Regions from separate parts of the Homo sapiens genome. Here region 1 is linked to region 2. Evidence: fine-mapped expression QTL. A gene starts in region 2. The other region holds a variant in brackets. All regions are shown on one strand. Distances are from middle to middle.

Evidence for each region. PIP is the estimated chance that this variant, and not a neighbour inherited with it, causes the effect.
Region 1: its variant is fine-mapped to the expression of EXOC5 in caudate (GTEx, PIP 0.99).

What each region holds. Positions count from the first base shown.
Region 1 is chr14:56,404,261-56,414,727 of GRCh38, reverse strand. All of the region lies in intron 6 of LINC02284 (long intergenic non-protein coding RNA 2284), which reads right to left. Among named protein-coding and RNA genes, the nearest start is that of LINC02284, 99 kb to the right of the region's middle. RefSeq lists an enhancer at 1-1,063. The variant G/A (reference allele first, on the strand shown) is at 4,440.
Region 2 is chr14:57,262,731-57,272,985 of GRCh38, reverse strand. It overlaps EXOC5 (exocyst complex component 5), which reads left to right and starts at 4,081. Exons shown (of 18, transcript NM_006544.4): 1 at 4,081-4,364. The coding sequence starts at 4,338. AP5M1 (adaptor related protein complex 5 subunit mu 1) reads right to left here and starts at 4,015. Exons shown (of 8, transcript NM_018229.4): 1 at 3,598-4,015. The coding sequence starts at 3,671. RefSeq lists enhancers at 3,851-4,050, 3,698-4,281 and a silencer at 4,591-4,650.

The DNA of each region.
Region 1 (10,467 bases), 860 kb after region 2:
CATCATAGCAGCATTTAGATTGTTTTCTTGGGGTCCTTGTCAGGGTGTTATATTCTGTATCATGGGAGAGGATTCTCATATCCCTAAACTCTCCCTTGTCCAACTTTATTTTCTGTCTAGGATCCAGAACTCGCAGAATCCAGTCCTACGGGTAGTATCCTGGCTTTTGCCAGTATGTGTTATTTAGGTCCTGCAGCCCCTTTCCAGTGCAGCCTTTTTCTTTTCCAGCAGACCCACTGCTTCCCCAAACAAGTCAAGGTATGACTCAACCCTATTCACATGCCTGTTGATCAAGAGGGAAGCTGTGAGCGGATTTGGGGGAGGAGGAGCATGTTGCCTTGTAAAACAGAGACCTCTGTGACATCTTCAGGCAAGGGAGGAGCATTAGCCTTTAACAAAGAGCAGTGGGACCCAACTGTGGTCCCAGAGGGTTCAGAAGAATCTGGAAATTCCCACTTTTCTAGTACACCAACCCAGATATACCTATCCCAGGCCCAGGTCCCACTCCAGGCCTTAGCACAGCAGACCTGTCAGGGCTAAGAACGCAACCTTCTCTGGAGCTCTGCTACTTTCTTGATTAAGCCCTTGGCCGTCCTTCAGTTTATCAGCTCTCCAACTGCAGGAGATGAGTCTCTGTATATGCTGCAAAGGAAGACTTCTGGTGATTTATCACTCTTTGTACCAACTGTTGCAGGTTTGGATCCCTGAGAAAATCTGAGACAGTTTTGCCCACAAAAAGCTTATTAGGAAGTGGAACTGCTCTGGGGACCATCTCTTTTAGGACAGTGAAGGAAGCAGAACTGGGCCAAGGGAGAAGATGAACCACGATGCTACCACAACAGAGGCCTCACTGATCCCATGGCGAGCTCTGGAGCCAGGATGGCCCTGCAGCGTGGTCTCAAGTTGAGATGAGTGGGGCAGGCACCCAGTAAGGGTTGCCCCTTGGAAGGAAGTGTAACCTTGGTCAAGGTGACTGGCTCTCTTTAACCCAGAACAAGTCCCAAACAAGGACTTAGTTAAGAGTTGTCAGCCTTGGGGAGATGGAATGAGTGCTTGAGGCTGCTGGGAGGATCTAGACAGAGAATCATGACATCGTCTACAACGACCTACCTAACACATATGGAGTTTTACAAACCTTAACTGCATAACAAGTCATCGTTTTCAGATTCTCAGGTAAAATTTAGGTGAAATACATCTTTGTAAGTCTCAATTACCCAGCATCTTAAGTTTTCTAGGGGTCTCAGGTTTCAAAACAAACCAAGGTCTTTTTTTTTCCTTTTTAACATAGACAACAAAAGGGGTCCATGTGGCATTTGGAGTAGACAATCCCAGTGATGGTCCTGCAAATGGTCCCAGAATTTCAACCCTCCTGTCTACCCTTCCTTTGCTACTTGGAGCTGAAAGCCACAGCCAAACTCTAAGCAACTCAACATGCTAATAGCCCTATGGTATACATACATGTGTTCTCTGAGCCATACTTTCATGGTCCTGAGCCACTCATAGCCACCCACTATCTGCATTGGGTCTGTAGACAACACACTGATTCCCTCTGGTGCAAAGAAGGAGCATAATAAGCAAGGCCCATTCCTTAGCAAAGAAAAGCAGTTGAATTCGGTGCAATGAAGACAAATTGGCCATAAACTCTGCAAGCCACGGAGGTTATTTCAGTTACTAAATGATTAAAGTCTCTAATCTCTGGAGTGGTGATAAAGAACACCGGAGAAGGGGGCTGGGTTTTTGATGCCTGGGGAAGGTGCAAAAACATCTCTCTTGAGACCATGCCAGAGGAAGCCCACCCCATAAAAGAACCACAGATAAGTAAGACATCATTAATAAATCAATGACAGGAAAATGAAAACGGAAGCAGATGAATCAGCCAGCAGATCGGGTTGTAGATGAAAAACAGCACATCTGTTGCTGCTGTCGGTGCATTAACAAATAAGTCTGCTGGATCAGATGGTCTTTCACGCTAATACTTGGAATAATGAAGCTTCAAAAGCGATTAAACCATAAATCAATTTTTAAATGTATCTTGTAACTCCCCCAAACAACAGGAGGCATATTTTTCCTTGCTTGAATTCTTTTTGGCAGGCATCGGAAGGTGCAGGGATAAAAAAACAGTGCCTCATTTTGGCTCTGCTGTGAGGTACAGGCACACAGCTAATTTAGTGTTTAGCCTCACGATTTGATTCTTACCAGCTAAAGGCACCGAGCTGTGCTTCATCTATATGTTAAATCCAAGCCAATGCATTTCAGCCTGAGCAGTACCCACCCGTCTTCTTGTCCAAGACAGCTCGGTTCTAGTGCCTGTTCCTCTTCATGCAGCTATTGATTTACATTTTATTTTGTTATTTTTGAAGACTTCAGCAAAATTAGCAATTGAGGTGGTGAAGTATTTTTCTCCTTTGAAGCATAACTCCTCCTTTTCTTCTATACTGAAAAAAAAGTTGCTTCTCTCTAATGGCAGAGTGGCCTGGTTGTAGGACATTAAGGATGGACATGAGTGGTTAATTTGGCAAATTCTACATCCATGTCCAAGAGGAAGAGATGTGCTCTCAACATAATTTTTTTACTTAAAAATGTTGGGACAATAAGGAAAGAGAAAAGGGAAAGGTTCAGGCTAAGAGAGGCAGACAAGGCCAGAAAGGACATAGGGTCACAGATCAGAAAAGGAAATCAAGTTTTGCTCCAAAATTTCTCTGAAAAGCAGAAAATCCTGTGAACTGACCAATAAATGAGTTCTTACTGAATAAGACAAATGGGGAAGAAATAGGAAGAAAGAAGGAAAAAGAAAGATGTGTAAGAAGATGAGTAGAAATGGTGAGAGGAGAACCCAGGATGAGGCAGAGGGAAACCAGGCCATATTTCCTCTCAGCGCACGGCCTTTGCTCCACATTACACCTCCTAACCAGCCCGGGGACAGTTGCACTCCAAGGAAGCAAACTGTTCCGTTCTTCTTCTTCTTCTCCTTGAAACACAATGGCTCTTTCAGGAAACAAACAAATAAACAAAAGCTAGGAAGAAACTATTTTGTTTACTTTGTCACAGAAAACAGGCTACCCTTGGGTCAGGAGATAGGGTATTCTGAGTTCATTTAGAATAGCCAGCAACACCCATGTTTGGTGAGAAGATGCCAAAAAATTATACCAAGTGGAAACTTTTATGTTAATTAATGAGTGACAATCAAATAAAATGATCAAGGCTCATACAAACATTTCCAGAAATAAGCACAAAGGTAGACAGAGGCTGTTTTTTTTTTTAATCATTGTAGGATCTGACAATATAAACTTTTCATATTAGATATTACCTATATACAGTTAGAATCCAAACCAATTGGAAGATTCCTTGGTCACCTGATAACTTCAAATGAAGATATCCAGAAAATTTAGGGACAGGTGATATCCTATAAACCAAGGTTTCTCAAACTTTTATGTGCCTACAACTATCTGAGGATCTTGTGGGAATTCAGATTCTAGGGAAACATTTCTGGAATGGTAGAGTAATGACCTCCAAAAATAGACTTTTCCATAAGAAGCAATAAACATCCTGGCAAAAATAGTCAAAATCAATTTTTTTCAGAATTGTGGAAATTAGCCAAAGGTATACAACACTCTGAGGTGCATTTCTTCAAGAAAAGCAGCTGACTATTGGTAAAAACAGCAAGCTTTGTGACATTCTAGCTTGCCCTATCCCCATTCCCTTCTCCACAGTTTCATAGTAGTCTCAAAAGTGAACAGCCTTACAGCCATGGTAACTGTAAAAACAGCAGCCTAGCAGTTACTGAAGGAAGAAGAATGGGTTTGGAGCTTAAGTCTAAAGACACTCAAGATTCAAAAACAAATAAGTGAAAGGAAGGAAGAAGATCTGCTATGCAAACAGTAACCTAAAAAGAGCTGGAGTGGCTATAATATTAACAGAAAAATCGACTTTAAGACCATTGTTACTAGAGATAAAAAGAACATTTTATAATCACAGAATGACCATTCCATCAGGAAAACATAACAATTACAAACATGTATGTCCCTAATAACAGAGGCCCAAAATACATGAATGATTAATAGAATTGAGGAAGAATTAGATTCAGCAGTAATAGTTGTAAATTTCAATATCCCACTTTTAATAAGGGATAGGCTGACAAGGCAGAAGATCAACAAGGTAATGGAAGACTTGAACAACACTATAAAACAGCTAAACATAACAGAAATCTATAGCACACTCCACCAAACAACAGAACACACGTTGCATCAAGCAAACACTCAGCATTCCCCAAAATAGAACACACGTTAGGCTATAGAAAGAAGTCTCAATAATGTTAAAGAGATGAAAATCATAGAATCTTCTATGACACAATGGAATGAAATTAGAAATCAGTAATGGAAAGAAATTTCAGGAATTCACAAACGTGAAAATTAAAAGACACACTTCTAAATAACCAATGA[G/A]TTAAAGAAGGAATCACAAGGGAAAGGAAATAATACTTTGAGATGAAAAAAAGAAAACCACAACATATCAAAACTTATGGAAGGCTGCTTGCCTTAGTCCATTTTGGTTGCTATAACACAATACCACAAATTGGGCAGATTTTAAGCAACAGAAATTTATTTCCCACAGTTCTGGAGCCAAAACAATCTTGAAAAAAAAAATAGGAGGATTCATACTTCCCAATTTTGAAACCTATGACAAAGATCCAATAATTAAGACAGTATGGTACTGGCATGAAGATAGACTTATAGATCATTGAAATAGAATTGAAAGTGCACAAAGAAGCTGTTAATTAATGGCCAATTGAATTGTGACCGAAGTGTCAGAGCAATTCAATGAGGGGACGAACAATCTTTTCAACAAATGGCGCTAGAACAACTGGATAGCCACAGGCAAAAGAAAGAAGTTGGTCCCTTTCATCATGCCATATATAAAAACTAACTCAAAATAGATCAAAGACAAAAATGGAAATACTAAAACTACAAAAGTTTTTTTTAACTATTAGTTTCAGGGGTACATGTATAGATTTGTTATATAGGTAAATTGCATATCATGGGCACTTGGTGTACAGATTACTCATCACCCAGGTAATATGCATAGTATCTGATATGTATACCCTCACCCTCCTCCCACCCTTCATCCTCAAGTAGGCTCCAGTGTCTGTCATTCCCTTGTTTGTGTCCCTGTGTACTCAATATTTAGCTCCTATTTATAAGTGAGAGCATGCAGTATTTGGTTTTCTGCTCCTGCATTAGTTAGCTTAGGACAATGGCCACCAGCTTCATCCATGTTGCTGCAAAGGATATGATCTTGTTCTTTTTAATGGCTGCATAGGCTTCCATACTGTCTATGTACCACATTTTCTTTATCAAGGCTACTGCTGACAGGCCATTAGGTTGATTCTACGTCTTCACTATTGTGAATTGTGCTGTGATGAACATGGATGCGTATGTGTCTTTAGAGTAGAAAAATTTATATTCATTCCTTTGGGTATATACCCAATAATGGGGTTGCTGGAATGAATGATAGTTTTAAGTTTGAGAAATCACCGAACTGCTTTCCACAACGGCTGAACTAATTTACATTCCCACCAGCAGTGTAGAAGTCTTCCCTTTTTTTTTTGCAACCTTGACAGCATCTGTTGACTTTTTAATAATAGCTATCCTGATGGGTGTGAGACGGTAGGTATCTCATCGTGGTTTTGATTTGCATTCCTTTCATGATTAGTGATGTTGAGCATATTTTAATATGCTTGTTGCTTTTGTGTATGTCTTTTGAAAAGTGTCTGTTCATGTCCTTTGCTCACTTTTTAAAGGGATTGTTTTTGGCTTGTTTAAATTCCTTATAGATTCTGGATATTTGACGTTTGTCAGGAGCACAGTTTGCACATATTTTCTTCCATTCTGTAGGCTGCCTTTTTGCTCTGTTAATAGTTTCTCTTGCTTTGCAGAAACCCTTTAGTTTAGTCCCATTTGTCAATTTTTGTTTTTGTTGCAATTGCTTTTGGCATCTTTGTCATGCAATCTTTGACAGGGCCCTTTACAGAATAGTATTTCCTAGGTTGCCTTTCAAGGTTTTTAAAGTTTTAGGTTTTACATTTAAATTATTAATCCATCTGAAGCTGATTTTTGTATATGATGTAAGGAAGGGGTCCATTTTCAATCTTCTGCATATGGCTAGCCACTTGTTGAATAGGGAGTTCTTTCCCCATTGTTATTGACTTTGTTGATGATCAGATGGTTGTAGGTGTGTGGCATTCTTTCTCGGCTATTACGTTACATTGGTTTGTGTCTATTTATGTACCAGCAGCAAGCTGTTTTGGCTACTGTAGCCTTGTAGTATAGTCTGAAGTCAGGTAGTGTGACACCTCTTTGTTCTTTTTGCTTAGGATTGCTGTGGCTGTTCGTGCTCTGTTTTGCTTTCATGTAAGTTTTGAAATAGTTTTCTAATTCTGTGAAGAATACCATTGGTAGATTGATAGAAATAGCATTGACTCTAAATTGGTTGGGGCAGTATGGCCATTTTAACATTATTGATTCTTCCTATCCATGAGCATGAAGTGTTTTTCCATTTGTTTGTGTCAAATCTGACGGTTTGAGCAGAGTTTTGTGATTTTTGTGGTAGAGGTCTTTCATCTCCCTGTTTGGCTGTATTCCTAGGTATTTTACTCTTTTTGTGGCTATTGTGAATTGGATCACGTTATTGGTTTGGCTCTCACCTTGGACATTGTTGGCATATAGAAATGCTACTGATTTTTGTACATTAATTTTATATCTTGAAACTTTGCTGAAGTTGTTTAATCAGATGTAGGAGCTTTTAGGCAGAGACTATGGGATTTTCTAGGTATAGAATTATATCATATGCAAACAGAGACAGTTTGACTTCCTCTCTTCCTATTTGGATGCTTTCTTTCTCTTGCCTGATTGCTCTGGCTAGGACTTCCAGTACCATGTTGAATAGGAGTGGTGAGAGTGGGTATGTTCTTGTCTTGTTCTCAAGGGGAATGCTTCCAGCTTTTGTCCATTCAGTATAATGTTGGCTGTGGGTTTTTTGTAGATGGCTTTAATTATTTTGAGGTATGCTCCTTCAGTGCCTAGTTTATTAAGGATTTTTAACATAAAGGGATGTTCAATTTTATCAAGTCTTTTCTGCATCTATTAAGATGATTATGTGGTTTTTGTTTTTAGTTCTGTTTATGTGAGGAATCACGTTTATTGATTTGCATATGTTGAACCAAACTTGCACCCCAGGGATAAAGCCTACTTGATCATGGTGGATTAGATTTTTAATGTGCTGCTGGATTCAGTTTGCCAGTATTTTGTTGAGGGTTTTGGCATCTACATTCATCAACAATATTGGCCTGAAGTTTCCTTTATTTGTTGTGACTCTGCCAGGTTTTGGTATCAGGATGATGCTAGCTTCAGAGAATGAGTTAGGGAGGAGTTACTTCTCCTCAATTTTTTGGAAAAGTTTCAGTAGGAATGGTACCAGTTATTCTTTATTTGGTAAAATTTGGCCATGAATCCATCTGGTCCTGGGCTTTTTCTGGTTGGTGGGCTTTTTATTACTAATTTGACTCCAGAACTCCTTATTGGTTTGTTCAGAGATTCAGTTTCTTTCCAGTTTAATCTTGGGAGGTTCTTTGTTTCCAAGAATTTATCCATTTCTTCTAGGTTTTCTAGCTTGTGTGCACAGAGGTATTCATAGTTGTCTGAAGATTTTTTGTATTTCTGTAGGGTCACTGGTAATGTCCCCTTTGTAATTTCTGATTGTGTTTATTTACATCTTCTCTTTTTTCTTTATTAGTCTAGCCAGAAGTCTCTAAATCTTATTTATTCTTTCAGAAAACTAACTCTTGGATTTGTCAATCTTTTATGTCTCAATTTCCTTCAATTCAGCTCTAATTTTGATTATTTCTTGTCTTCTGCTAGCTTTGGGGTTGGTTTGCTCTTGTTTTCCTAGTTTCTCTTGGTGTGATGTTAGGTTGCTAATTTGAGATTTTTTTTTTTTTTTTTTTTTTTTTTTTGGAGACAGGGTCTTACTCTGTCATCCAGGCTGGAGTGCAGTGGTATGATCTCAGCTCACTGCAACTTCTGCTTCCTGGAATCAAGTAATCCTCCCACCTAAACCTCCCAAGTAGCTGGGAATACAGGATGAGCCACTGTGCCCAGCTAATATTTTGTAGAGATGGGGTTTCACTATGTTGCCCAGGCTGGTCTTGAACTCCTGGGCTCAAAGCAATCCACCTGCCTTGGTCTCCCAAAGTGTTGGGATTACAGGTGTGAGCCACTGCATCTGGTCCTCTAACTTTTCACCATCAACTCTACCTTTTAACACTACTTTAGCTATGTCCTGAGGTTATGGTATGTTTTATCTTTGTTCTCATTAGTTTCAATTTCTTGATTTCTGCCTTAGTTTCATTGTTTTCCCAAAAGTCATTCAGGAGCAGGTTGTTTAACTTCCATGTAATTGTATGGCTTAGAGTGATTTTCTTAGTATTAATTTCTATTTCTATTGCACTGTAGTCTGAGGGTATGGTTGGTATGATTTTGTTTTTTTTTTTAATTTGCTGAGAATTATTTTATGGCTGCTTGTTGTTTGGTTGATTTTAGAGTATGTGCCATATGCAGATGAGAAAAATCTATATTTTTTGGAGGGGTGGAGAGTTCTGTAGATGTCTGTTAGGTTCTGATATGGTTTGGGTCTGTGTCCCCACCCAAATCTCATTTCAAATTATAATGCCCAATGTTAGAGGTGGAGCCTGGTGGGAGATGATTGGGTGATCATGGGGGTGGGTTTCCCCTTTGGTACTGTTCTCATGTTAGTGTGTCAGTTACCATGAGATCTAGTTGTTTAGAAGTGTAGCGCACTGCACTCAACTCTTCCTCCTGCTCTGGCTGTGTAAGACATGCCTGCATCCCTTTTGCCTTTTGCCACAAGTTTCCTGAGGCCTACCCAGCCACGCTTCCTGTACAGCTTGCAGAACCGTGAGCCAATTAAACCTCTTTTCTATATAAATTACCCAGTCTCAGGTATTTCTTCATAGCAGTGTGAGAATGGACAAATAAAGGTCCCAAATATCTTTGTGAGTTTTCTGCCTCGGAGATCTGTCTAATATTGTCAGTAGGGTGTTAAAGTCTCCCACTATTATTGTGTAGCTATCTAAGCCTCTTTGCTGGTCTCTAAGAACTTGCTTTATGAATCTGGTTTCCCCCTTGTTGGATGGATATATATTTAGGATAGTTAGGTATTTTTGTTGAATTGAACCCTTTACCGTTATGTAATACCCCTCTTTGTCTTTTTCAATCATTGTTGGCTTGAAGTCTGTTTTGTCGGAAATTACAACATCAATCCCTGTTATTTTCTGTTTTCCACTTGCTTGGTAGATTTCTCTCTGTTCCTTTATTCTGAACCTATGATTATCATGAATGTGAGATAGGTCTCTTAAGGCATCATACAGTTAGGTATTGCCTTTTTATCAAACTTGCCACTCTGTCTTTTAATTGGGATATTTAGCCCATTTACATTCAAGGTTAATAATATAGGTTTGGCTGTGTCCCCACCCAAATCTCATCTTTAACTATAGCTCCTACCATTCCCATGTGTGTGGGAGGGACCCACTGGGAGAAAATCTTCACAAACTATGCATGCAACAAAGGACCAATATAGAATCTACAAGGAATTCAAACAAATCAGCAAGAAAGAAACCAAATAATCCTATCAATGAGTGGGCTAAGGACATGAATAGGCAATTCTAAAAAAAAAAGATATACAAGGCTGGACCATGGCAGCTCATACCTGTAATCCCAGCACTTTGGGAGGCCAATGTGGGTGGAACGCTTGAGGCCAGGAGTTCAAGATGAGCCTGGCCAACATGGTGAAACCCTGTTTTTACTAAAAAATACAAAACTTAGCCAGGTATGGTGGTGCATGCCTGTAATCCCAGCTATTCAGGAGGCTGAGGCATGAGAATCACTTGAACCTTGGAGGCGGAGGTTGCAGTGAGCCAAGATTGCACCACTGCACTCCAGTCTGGGTGACATAGTAAGATTCTGTCTCAAAAAAAAAAAAAAAAAAAAAAAAGGAAGGTATGCAAGTGGCCAACAAATACATTCAAAAATGTTGAACATCACTAATTATCAGGGAAATGCAAATCAAAACTACAATGCAATACCACCTTACTCCTGCAAAAATGGCCATAATTTAAAAATAAAAAAATAATAGATTTTGGCATGGATGTGGTGAAAAGGGAACACTTTTACACTGCTGGTAGGAATGTAAGCTAGTACAACCACTATAGCAAACAGTGTGGATATTACTTAAATAACTAAAAGTAGATCTACCATTTGATCCAGCAATCCCACTACTGGCTATCTACCTGGAGGAAAAGATGTTATTATATGAAAAAAGACACTTGCACATGCATGTTTATATCAGGACAATTTGCAACTGCAAAAATATGGAACCAGCCCAAAGGCCCATCAATCA
Region 2 (10,255 bases):
CACTGCACTCCACCCTGGGCAACAGAGTGAGACTCCATCTCAAAAAACAAACAAACAAAAAGAAAAACACCAAGCAAGCAAGCAAGCAAACAAACAAACAAAAAACCCAAAAGCAGTTACCCATGTGTAGGTAAATATCACCTACATTCTGATGCATTTTCTTGATTAAGAAAGGGGAAGAATCAGGTAGCACACCAGTAATGGCATGGCATAGCAGGTAAATGCCATTTATTTCTCTAAATCTCTGTATATGAATAGTAGAGATCTCTGGACTAAACTCTAGTCCAATCTCTTATTATCTAGTTTTCCAGAGGGTAATTAAAGTTCTTAAGTATAAAAATTTCACAATTGACTGTGAAGATAAGTTAATCTGGGAACTTACACAACACCCCAATATGTGTTCAATAAATATTTTGTTGGATGACTCAACCTATCATTTCTAATTTATTATATGCTTTTTCTAAAACAGGATTCAAGGCTTAAATGGGCCTACAACTATGGGGTATGATACCGACCTAAGCCAGATGTAAGCTGATGCTATTATTATCTGGAAAGCAAACCTTTAAACCAGAATCTTAACCAAGTTTTGTTATAGGAAATAAGTACTTAGATAGAGAAAACATCATTTGCCTTCTTAAATCTTAAATATTGGCCACTTATTGACACTTATAAAGTGTCAGTGCCTATCTGTGTAGCTCTAACACCTCCCCCAAGAGGTTAGAAAACTGAAAATATAATAAAATTTAACTAAGTCATTCAATGATACAGAATTAAATTATTTGAACACAACTTGCTACCTCCATAAATGTATTGAAAAGCCCATCCAAACATATCTGACTTTTTATTCTGAAATAATATCCTGAACACAGTGAAAAAACATTCTGAAAACTAGGATTTAAGAAACTTATTTACTTAAGCAGTAAAAAGTTCACCTCTATGAAATATTAAGATAAGCTACAAAGCAACAGATATTGTATTGGTACAAGAAAGACAAAGTACTAGAACTGAGACAGACCAACATTTATATGAGGGGACATAACTAACACTACCAGTAGCCTCACAAATTAATGAAGACATGACATACTGCTTAAAAGATGATGTCAGAAAAACTGACCCACACTACAGAGAAAACCGAAATGGGATTCCTACTTAACATCATATCCAAAGATGGACTACATATGGGTTAAAGACCTAAATGTAGCAGATGAAATTATAAAGAGAAGACAATGTAGGAAGATATTTTTGGGAAATATGGGTGAGAAAAAACTTCAACAAATTCCCAAAAGCAATTAACTAGTTTGATTGCATCAAAATTAGTGATTTCTGTTTAACCAAGGGCAACATAAAGTTAATTGACAATGGTAAATTAAAGAAAATATCTGTACTATCTAAAAATGACATAGGACTAATACCAAGAATACAAAACAAACTCCTACAAATTCAGAGGAAAAAATAAGCAACTTTCAAAGAAAAAAAGGACAAGACATGTACAGGCAATTCACAGTAGAGGAAACTTAAAGGACTAACAATCATTGCTACATACAGAAATGCAAACGAAAATAAGATGTTCTTTATTGGCAAAAATTACATGTTAGGAAAGAATGGAGATACGGGAACCCCTTCTTGCTGCTAGTGAGTGCGTAGGTGGCTGAAAGCATTCTGTGGAGCAGATTATTTGGCAGTCTTTAGTCAAAATCGGCATAGACATGCCCCATGGACAGATTTGAGGATGCATACTTTGGCAGTGTTCTTTGGAGGCAAATTTGGGAGAGGTCATCACTAGGTAAAGGGGACAGGTAAATGTGTAGGATGTGAACCATGAGTACTACAGAGCAAGAAGAAACAATGGCCTAGATTTGCACTGTCCAACATAGTAGAACTACCCACATGTGGCTATTTAAACTTAAATAAAAATCAATTAACATTACCCAAAATTAACAATTGAGTTCCTCAGTTATGCTAGCTGCAGCTCAAAAGCTCAATAGGTACTTGTGGCTAGTGGCTACAGTATTAGCCAGTACAGATTAAGAACATTTCTCCTTTCCATCATCATAGAGAATTCTATTGGACATGCTGCCTTAGATGAACACAAAGTATCATGGATGTTTCTTTAAAATAGTGTTGAGAAATGTGACAAATGTAACATTAGGAAGTGAAGTCTAAAGCACACTTAATTATGTAATTTGAAAAATGCATACAATGAAAAAGAGTAACATCGAAGATGTTAAGAGTTATCTGTCAGTGGGAAGGGAACGGCAGTTAGAAATAGGTAACCAAAGGGAATATAAGTAAAATGAGAGATACTTTGTACGGACTGATGCGCCTGGTAAAACCACGTACTAAAGAATATTATTAATCTCCTGTATTTGAGGTCCAACAACAAATGTTGGGGTTAGTGTCAGCCAGAAATCCTGGGGGGAAATGGTAAACTCCAACTCTGATGCCCTCAGGAACAAAAACTGTTAAGGTTGCAAAGAAGGAATTTTTCATATCCCCATTGCCAACCAATTTTCATTTAAAATTAAAATCTTTTTTTTCTGCCTCAATCTCAATTCTACTATGGTACTACTTCACTATAAGCTTTCTTCAGGGAAGAACGAATTGTGACAAAAAAGAACTATCAATGGCCAGAGAATAAAAGGTGAAATAGACCCACTCGATTGCCACCAACATTTTACAATGAGTTACTGTACAATTCCCTTAACAGAGCTATTTTGATTACACAGGGCAAATTCTAATAGTGGGACCAGATCAACTTAACACAATATATGAAATAGTGAATACATTTTTTTGTGTTTCTATTTTCTTCAACAATTAGGAACTGTAAACTGATGATTTCTACCATTGACACATATTAACAAGATAAAAATAAAAGCCTGGGCGGGGCGCGGTGGCTCCTGCCTGTAATCCCAGCACTTTGAGAGCCAAGGCGGGCGGATCACGAGGTCAGGAGATCAAGACTATCCTGGCTAACACGGTGAAACCCCCTCTCTACCAAAAATACAAAAAATTAGCCGGGCGTGGTGGCGGGTGCCTGTAGTCCCAGCTACTCGGGAGGCTGAGGCAGGAGAACGGCATGAACCCGGGAGGCGGAGCTTGCAGTGAGCGGAGATCGCACCACTGCACTCTAGCCTGGGGAACAGAGCGAGACTCCGTCTCAAAAAAATAAAAACAAAAAAATAAAAGTCTGATATAACTTAGCATGGATTTTTCAGTAGAATAAGTTAAAATGTTCTGGAACGATTTTGTCAATGCATGTTGAAAAATCTGAAAATGTTTAGTGCTCAGTAAATTTTCTACCGTTCCCTTAGTCATCTCCATTTTAATTCTAAGCAGACGGAGGTCATTTTAAAACACAATACTAATAGAAAACATATACCGTAAATAATATGTACCAGTCATCAACTCAATTCTCACAACACTGTAAGGTAGGACTATTAAAATCTCCATTTAACAGACGAAACAGAGGTCTGTTAACTGGCTAGCCCAAGGTCACGCAGCTATTCGTGGCAAACCTGGGCCACGAAGCACCACAAAACTATGCTACTTCATCGATCTTCTGATCCATCATCCCTGAGGATTCAGATTTGCATTTACCTGGAGAATCTCACGGTGCCACAAAGTGGAGTTCCCGGTTCGTGGCTTATGAGCCACACTGCCCGCTGCGCCATGGTTAAGTCAGTAAAGCATTAGCTCATCTCATAATTAAGGTCGCCACCGAGGAACAGCGCAGACCGGCTTTCTCAGACAGACTCTTAACAGAAGCCCTGAGGCTCATCCTGCGCCGCATACCGGTCGCGCTCAGCAGAGAGGTTAGCTTTTTTAGGTGAAGTCACTAACGCTTCTGAGTCGCTCTAGGCCAACACACACCACAAAAAGTTCTAAGAACCCCAACCTATAACCTTGAGAAATTTACCTATACCCTGCAACTCCGGTATTTTCTTCCTCTAAATTCTACTTCCGGAATGGTGGCCCGCAAGGATCAAAGTTCCTCATACACGGTAGCGTCGAGCCTTTTTTCGGTTCTTTCGCCGCTCGTTTTATTCGCCGGCCCCTCCCGACAACCTCCCTGGCGCGCGCAGTTCCACTTCCGGCGTATGAGGCGGTGACAATGGGAGCAGCGCGGGCGGCGCCGGGAGGCAGCTGACAAGCGTTTGCGGCTTCGCTTCATGGCCGCTCTCCCGCCCCTCCTGGGATCTGTGGGGAGCTGGGGAGCCCGCAGCGGCCCGGAGCCGGAGCTGGCGAGCCGAGCGGAGACCTGTGCGCCGCGCCTCTGAGGCGCAGCATGTGAAGCGGAGACGGCATCCAGTGGGGGGCGAGCCTCTCAGCCGGCCGGGATGGCTACCACGGCCGAGCTCTTCGAGGTGGGCCCCGGCGGCTCTACAGGGAGTGGCAGGCCCGGGGTTTGCAGGCAGCTGGGTGGGCGGGCCGAGGAGCGGGCGTTTGCTGGCTGCCCAGGAGGAGCCCTCGGGAGAGAGGTGCGAAACAGAAGGGTTGGGGTGGCAGCTCCGTGTCAGCGCGGGCGGAGCGTGAAATGGGGGAGGGGTGCTTGGGGCCGAGGTGGGCTGGGCGGCCGGTCGGCAGAGAGGGGAAGCCGGGTGTCCCAAGGGAGGAGGGTTGCTTTTGTTTGTGGGGGCAAGAGGGAAAGTCTGGAAGGTTCGGGTGTTGGAAGATGTCTACTCCGGATGAGTAGTGGGAAGGGCTGACTCAGGACGAGGAAAGAGAGCCAGGAGCCTCAGGTTGGGCGAGTCTTGTCGCTGGGGTCCTCGCGGGAATAATAGGAGGAAGCCACTTGAGATCGGGACTCTTGGGGGCTTCTCGTTTTGAGTAATTATTCCATTAGTAAGGTTGCAGGTGGCATTCATAGGACTGCCAGTTTAACCTGACATTTGAAAAGGCTGGGACAATTTTTTTTTTTTTGGACAATAAAGGCCTACTTATCTCTTTCGACTGAAGAGAGATAGACTGAAGGGAGGCAAAATTCAAGTGAACACTTTATTTCATGTAATACATAATAATACACTCGAGGCATTTACGTGTATTATAAAATAAAAAAAGTTTATAAAATAAAACGAACACTTCGTTTCATGTATATAATGCACCTTAAGTGTATTATATGCATTTACATGTATTATAAAATCACCTAACTGCAAGCTAGAGAATCCTTAATATGTAATAGTGAGAATACTAATGTCTTTCCTCGAGCGTTTACAGTATCTAAACCTTAAAATTTAATTTCGTGAAGTCCGTTGTAAGAAGCTGTGATAAAAGTTTGAGATAATAGAATAGGAAAACTCTAATTAGGCTACAAAACAATGACACGTATAAAGCATCTCCTTGTGTGAAAGAAATGAAAACGGATAAGAAAAAGGAAAGAAAGACCCCTTTTTTGTGTGTGTGCTTGTGTTTCACATTGAGTAACAAAAGTGTAATAATTGAGAAGACTGTAATCCACAATAGGGAACTTCTCCATAAGTGAAAATGGTATCCTTTTTCTGCGTAAGATTCAGCAGTTTTTGTGGCTTACAATTTGAATGCCACAGTTTTAATAACAAATGGAAATTTACATTTGTTATTGTTACTATATTTTGCATATCAGTCAGCTTTTGGATAGATAATGCTTTTTTTGAGAGGAGTAATATATGTTATTGTTATAATAAGTTGTAATAAGACAGTAATTTGTGAATGAAGGATTGTAATTACAAGAAAGACTTCAGAGATATTGTATTTTCTCACTTAAGTGTTGGGAGATATGCTACATTAATTTCTGTAATTCCAAAATTGTGCCATCTGTTTATTGACACAAGAACGGGGAGACATTTTTCCTGCTAGGAACTTTTACTGTGTCCCTAGGTACTAAGTAGTGCTGTGGTTCCTTGTTTTATTTTTCACATCTTAAAAAGGGAGAAAACGATGAAGTTGTATGAGATCTTTAATTAAGGTATTTGCCGGCAAGCCAGCTCTTAACTGAAAACTGTTATATATGTTGTCATACAGTTCATAAGACATTATCCTTTGAGTTAATCCTGCTTGACAGTTCCAGTTGTACCTTGGACCATCTTATGTATATTTTTATTTAAATGTTTGACCACATGATTTCAGTAACTTATTTGGAAATATGTTTGATTTTTTTTTTTCCCCTCTCCCTAGCGGGGAAGGGGAGGAGGTGGGGAAATATATATTTTGCTTTCTGGGGTCCTGCTATTAGGTTAAGTAGTATATATATACGTTTTATATATATATATATATACACACACACACATACACATATATATATATAACGTATATATAACATACATATATATAATGTAATTTAGTGACTCTAGTTACATGGTAGCCAGTAAGATTCTGTGATAATAGAGACAGTAGCCCTTAGACTACCCTTAGGCCAGAGGGTTTTTAGGACAAATTTAAACGTATTTATAGATCTTAAAACTGACGTGACTTTTTTTCTTGACTATATGTAGCTTGTTGCTTCATCATAATTAAAAGCATAATAGTTACAATTAAGTTTCAATAGTTATAATTAAGAAGTGCATTTATCTTTTCTGGTACTGCTATGAATCCAGCCCTACAGTGGACTCTACTCTTGAGTAAGTTTTCATCCCCAAGTGAAAAGTTGATCTCTTGGCCTTGGAGGGAGGAGGAAAAAAAATCCTGTCACTGCTCAGTTTCCTGTAACTACTGCCATAGCATCTAGGTTGTAGTAAGAGTCACGGGAAGTATCTTTTTCTCCTGCTTCCCTTTCTTAGTCCCAGCTGGAGAACTGTGGAAAACGGAAGGCAGGATGTAGTCAAGGATGTTTGGTTTTTATGCATCCTGATTTTCATGCACTGTTAAATAGAATTATGCTTTCACTTTTCATGTTAGGAGAAGTTAAATGAAAACAAAATTAAGCTTTTGAATCCATGACATTTCATTATGTTAACTCTGCTTCTTTTAAAATCTTATTGGTCCCATGACTCTCAATGAAAACAACTTCATATAACAAAATCAAACTGTAATATATTTCCTCAGTTGACCGAAATGATTTAGTAATAGATGATTTGGCTATTGTAATAGTGTATATCCTGGAAGTTTCTCAGAATACCTTCTTAGTTTCAACTTTTGTTGACAGATCTTTCTGAAAAGATCCATGTACAGTGTTTTAAAATCTCCTCAGGATAGACATTCTGAGTAAGGATTCTTATGTGGTGTAGATAAATTGTATCTTCTACATATACAAAGTGGCTGGGCTCAGAAATTCCTTTTCTTTGTTTTTGAGACAGGGTCTTGCTCTATCGCATAGGCTGGAGTGCAGTTGGGTAATCACTGCTCGCTGCAGCCTCTACCCTCCTGGCACAATCCATCTGCCCACCTTAGCCTCCAGAGTAGCTGGGACTAGAGGTGCCTGCCTCCATGCCCAGCTGATTTTTAAAAATTTTTTGCAGAAATAAGGTTTTACCATGTTGCCCAGGCTGGTCTTGATCTCCTGGGCTTAAACAATCTGCCCACCTTGGCCCCACAAGGTGCTGGGATTACAGGTGTGAGCCACCGTGCCCCGCCAGTTCTTTTTATGTTGTTGCAAATGTTCCTCTCTCCTTTTATTGTACTACTGAGGACATTCTTTCCTCATTTGCTTAATTTTTTCCCCCATAATTCTTCAAGAATCTTCGCTTTTCTCTGTTTGGGCTACCATTACGGGAGAGTTCTTGGTTAGTAACTAGGGTTAATTATTCATTCATTCTACAGATATTTGTTGAGTACCTTTTAAGTTCAAGATAAAGTTCTGAAATTGACGAGGCTGCATGTCTCAAAGGGCATGCCATAGAAATATTAATCCTATGAGATGTGTCGCAAAAAAAAAAAAAAAGGGTTCAGTGACCAAGTAAGTTATGGAAATGAGCATAGTCTGTTTCGTTGGAGATTTGCGGTATACCTTAATATGTTAAAGATGATGAGAAGTCCATTTCCCCAACTTTTTTCACCATGAGACTGTTTTCTTTCTTTTTTAAAGAGACTTTTATTTTCTACTGCTTGTTAACTTAATTTTGTGAATTACAAGGTACATATTTTGGAAAATAGAATTAAGTATAGAACTTGTCCTTATCAAATAGAGGGAGAGAAGGTGGATATATGATACTATACTCTTAAAAATAAGGTTATAAATGGTTTCAAAGAGGTCTAGATGTGCCATAGGTGTTGAGAGGATGGGAAGATTGCCTCTAGAAGAAAGAAAGGATTAGAAGGTGGCATTTGAATTACCTACAGAGGATAAATTAGATTTGAGTTTGTGGAACTGGATGGAGGGACTTTTCAGTAAAGCAGACAATAAAAGCTAAGACATAAAGGGAGGGTTGTAGGCCCTGGAGATAAGGGGAGCATTCATTTTGGCTGGAGTATATATAGCACACATAAAGAGGAAGAGTGGCATGTAAGGTAAATCGGGGTTTAATTTTGGAGGTCCTAAATGCCAGGATTAAAATTTCATTTTTTTTTCTTTCTGTAAATATAGGTTCCTTGATAATAGTGCTTGAGGTCAGGTAATTTGGCTATGATAGCAATGGCTGTTTGACTTCCAAATTAGAGTATGAATATTGAAGAACACCTTTTCCCACATTTATTTGTCTCTTAATTTTTCAAACTAAATTACAAAAGCTAGTTAAACAGAGTTGTTGAAAATGATGTCTCTTGTTCAATTAGCTAGCCAGGTATATACTAACGAACATGAGATACACAAGTAAGGAGCACCCCGTTACTGTCAAGGTGCTGAAATGCTATTTATTTTAACCATATTAGTTGTTAAGTGTTTATAGACCTTGGCTACCAATTGTAGTAACATGGATATGATAGAATGTATTCATTCTGCAAACGTTGAATGAATCTGTAGGCCAGACATTCCAGGTACTAGAGTTAAAAGATGTTGAGTTAAGCATCTGGTTGAGGAAGACAGACATGTTAATACATTAATACAGCGCAGTGGGAGTATAGAATCTTTTCCAGGGATTATTAGGAAAGGTTTCATTTAGTAATGGCATATAGAAATTGGATGTTGATGGATGAGTAGAGATTTTTCAGACAGGAGAAGGGCATTCCAAGGCAGAGACACAAGATGGCTCCAGTTTGTTGTAAGGTGAGGCAGTTGAGAAGAGTTAGGATGTGTATGTGCATATTTTAAGAATAGGGAGTGGTGGCAAGGCATTGAGACCATAGGAGTTCGAGGGCAGTTTTTTTGTTTTTTTGCTTTTTTTTTTTTTTTTTTTTTTTAGGCTGGAGTGCAGTGGCGTGATCTCAGCTCACTGTAACCTCTGCCTCTGGTTTCAAGCGATTCTCCTGCCTCAGCCTCCTGGGTAGCTGGGATTATAGGTGCCTGCCACCATGCCCAGCTAATTTTTTTATTTTTAGTAGAGATGGGCTTTCGCTGTGTTGGCCAGGCTGGTCTCGAACTCCTGACCTCATGATCGACCTGCCTCGGCCTCCCAAAGTGCTGGGATTACAAGCGTGAGCCACCGTGCCTGGCCAGTTTTTTTGTTTTTTGAGACAGGGTTTTGCTCTGTCACCCAGGCTGGAGTGCAGTAGTGTAATCACAGCTCACTGCAGCGTCGACCTCCTAGGCAAAAGCGATCCTCCCACCTCAGCCTCCTGAGTAGCTGGGACTACAGGCATGTGCCACCATGCTTGGCTAATTTTTTATTTTTTGTAGGGACGGGGTCTCATTGTATTGCCCAGGCTAGTCTCCAACTCCAGGACACAAGTGGTCCTCCCACCTAGGGCCTCCCAAGGTGCTGGGATTATAGGCATGAGCCACTGGGTCCAGCCTGGGGGAAGTTTTAAGAAGGCTTTTTATACCTCATGCAAGAGGGCTGACCTTACTTTTTTTGGGTAAGGGTCAGGGAGACAGACAATTTTAATGTTAGTGTGAAGAATGGCCTTCTATGGGGGAAGAAATTGTTAGCTGGGAAAATAGGGATCGTGGGCAACCTGACATAGTTCTTGTCATTTGGTAAGTGTTCCAGAATTATCTGTTGACTGATTAATCTGGCCAGATGAAAGTCTAACCTAATTCAATGGTGACAGAGAAGAAATTTGAAAAGAATTTTGGAGGAAGAATTAAAGGAATTTGATTACTGAGGAGTTAAAATTCCAAATTTGTAAACTTTGAAAAGTAGGTGGTTGGTGATTCATTAACTGTGACAGAGAAAATTAGAAGGACCCTTGCAGGGGGAAGAAATAATATATTCATTAAGTATATATATACACACACACATATATACGT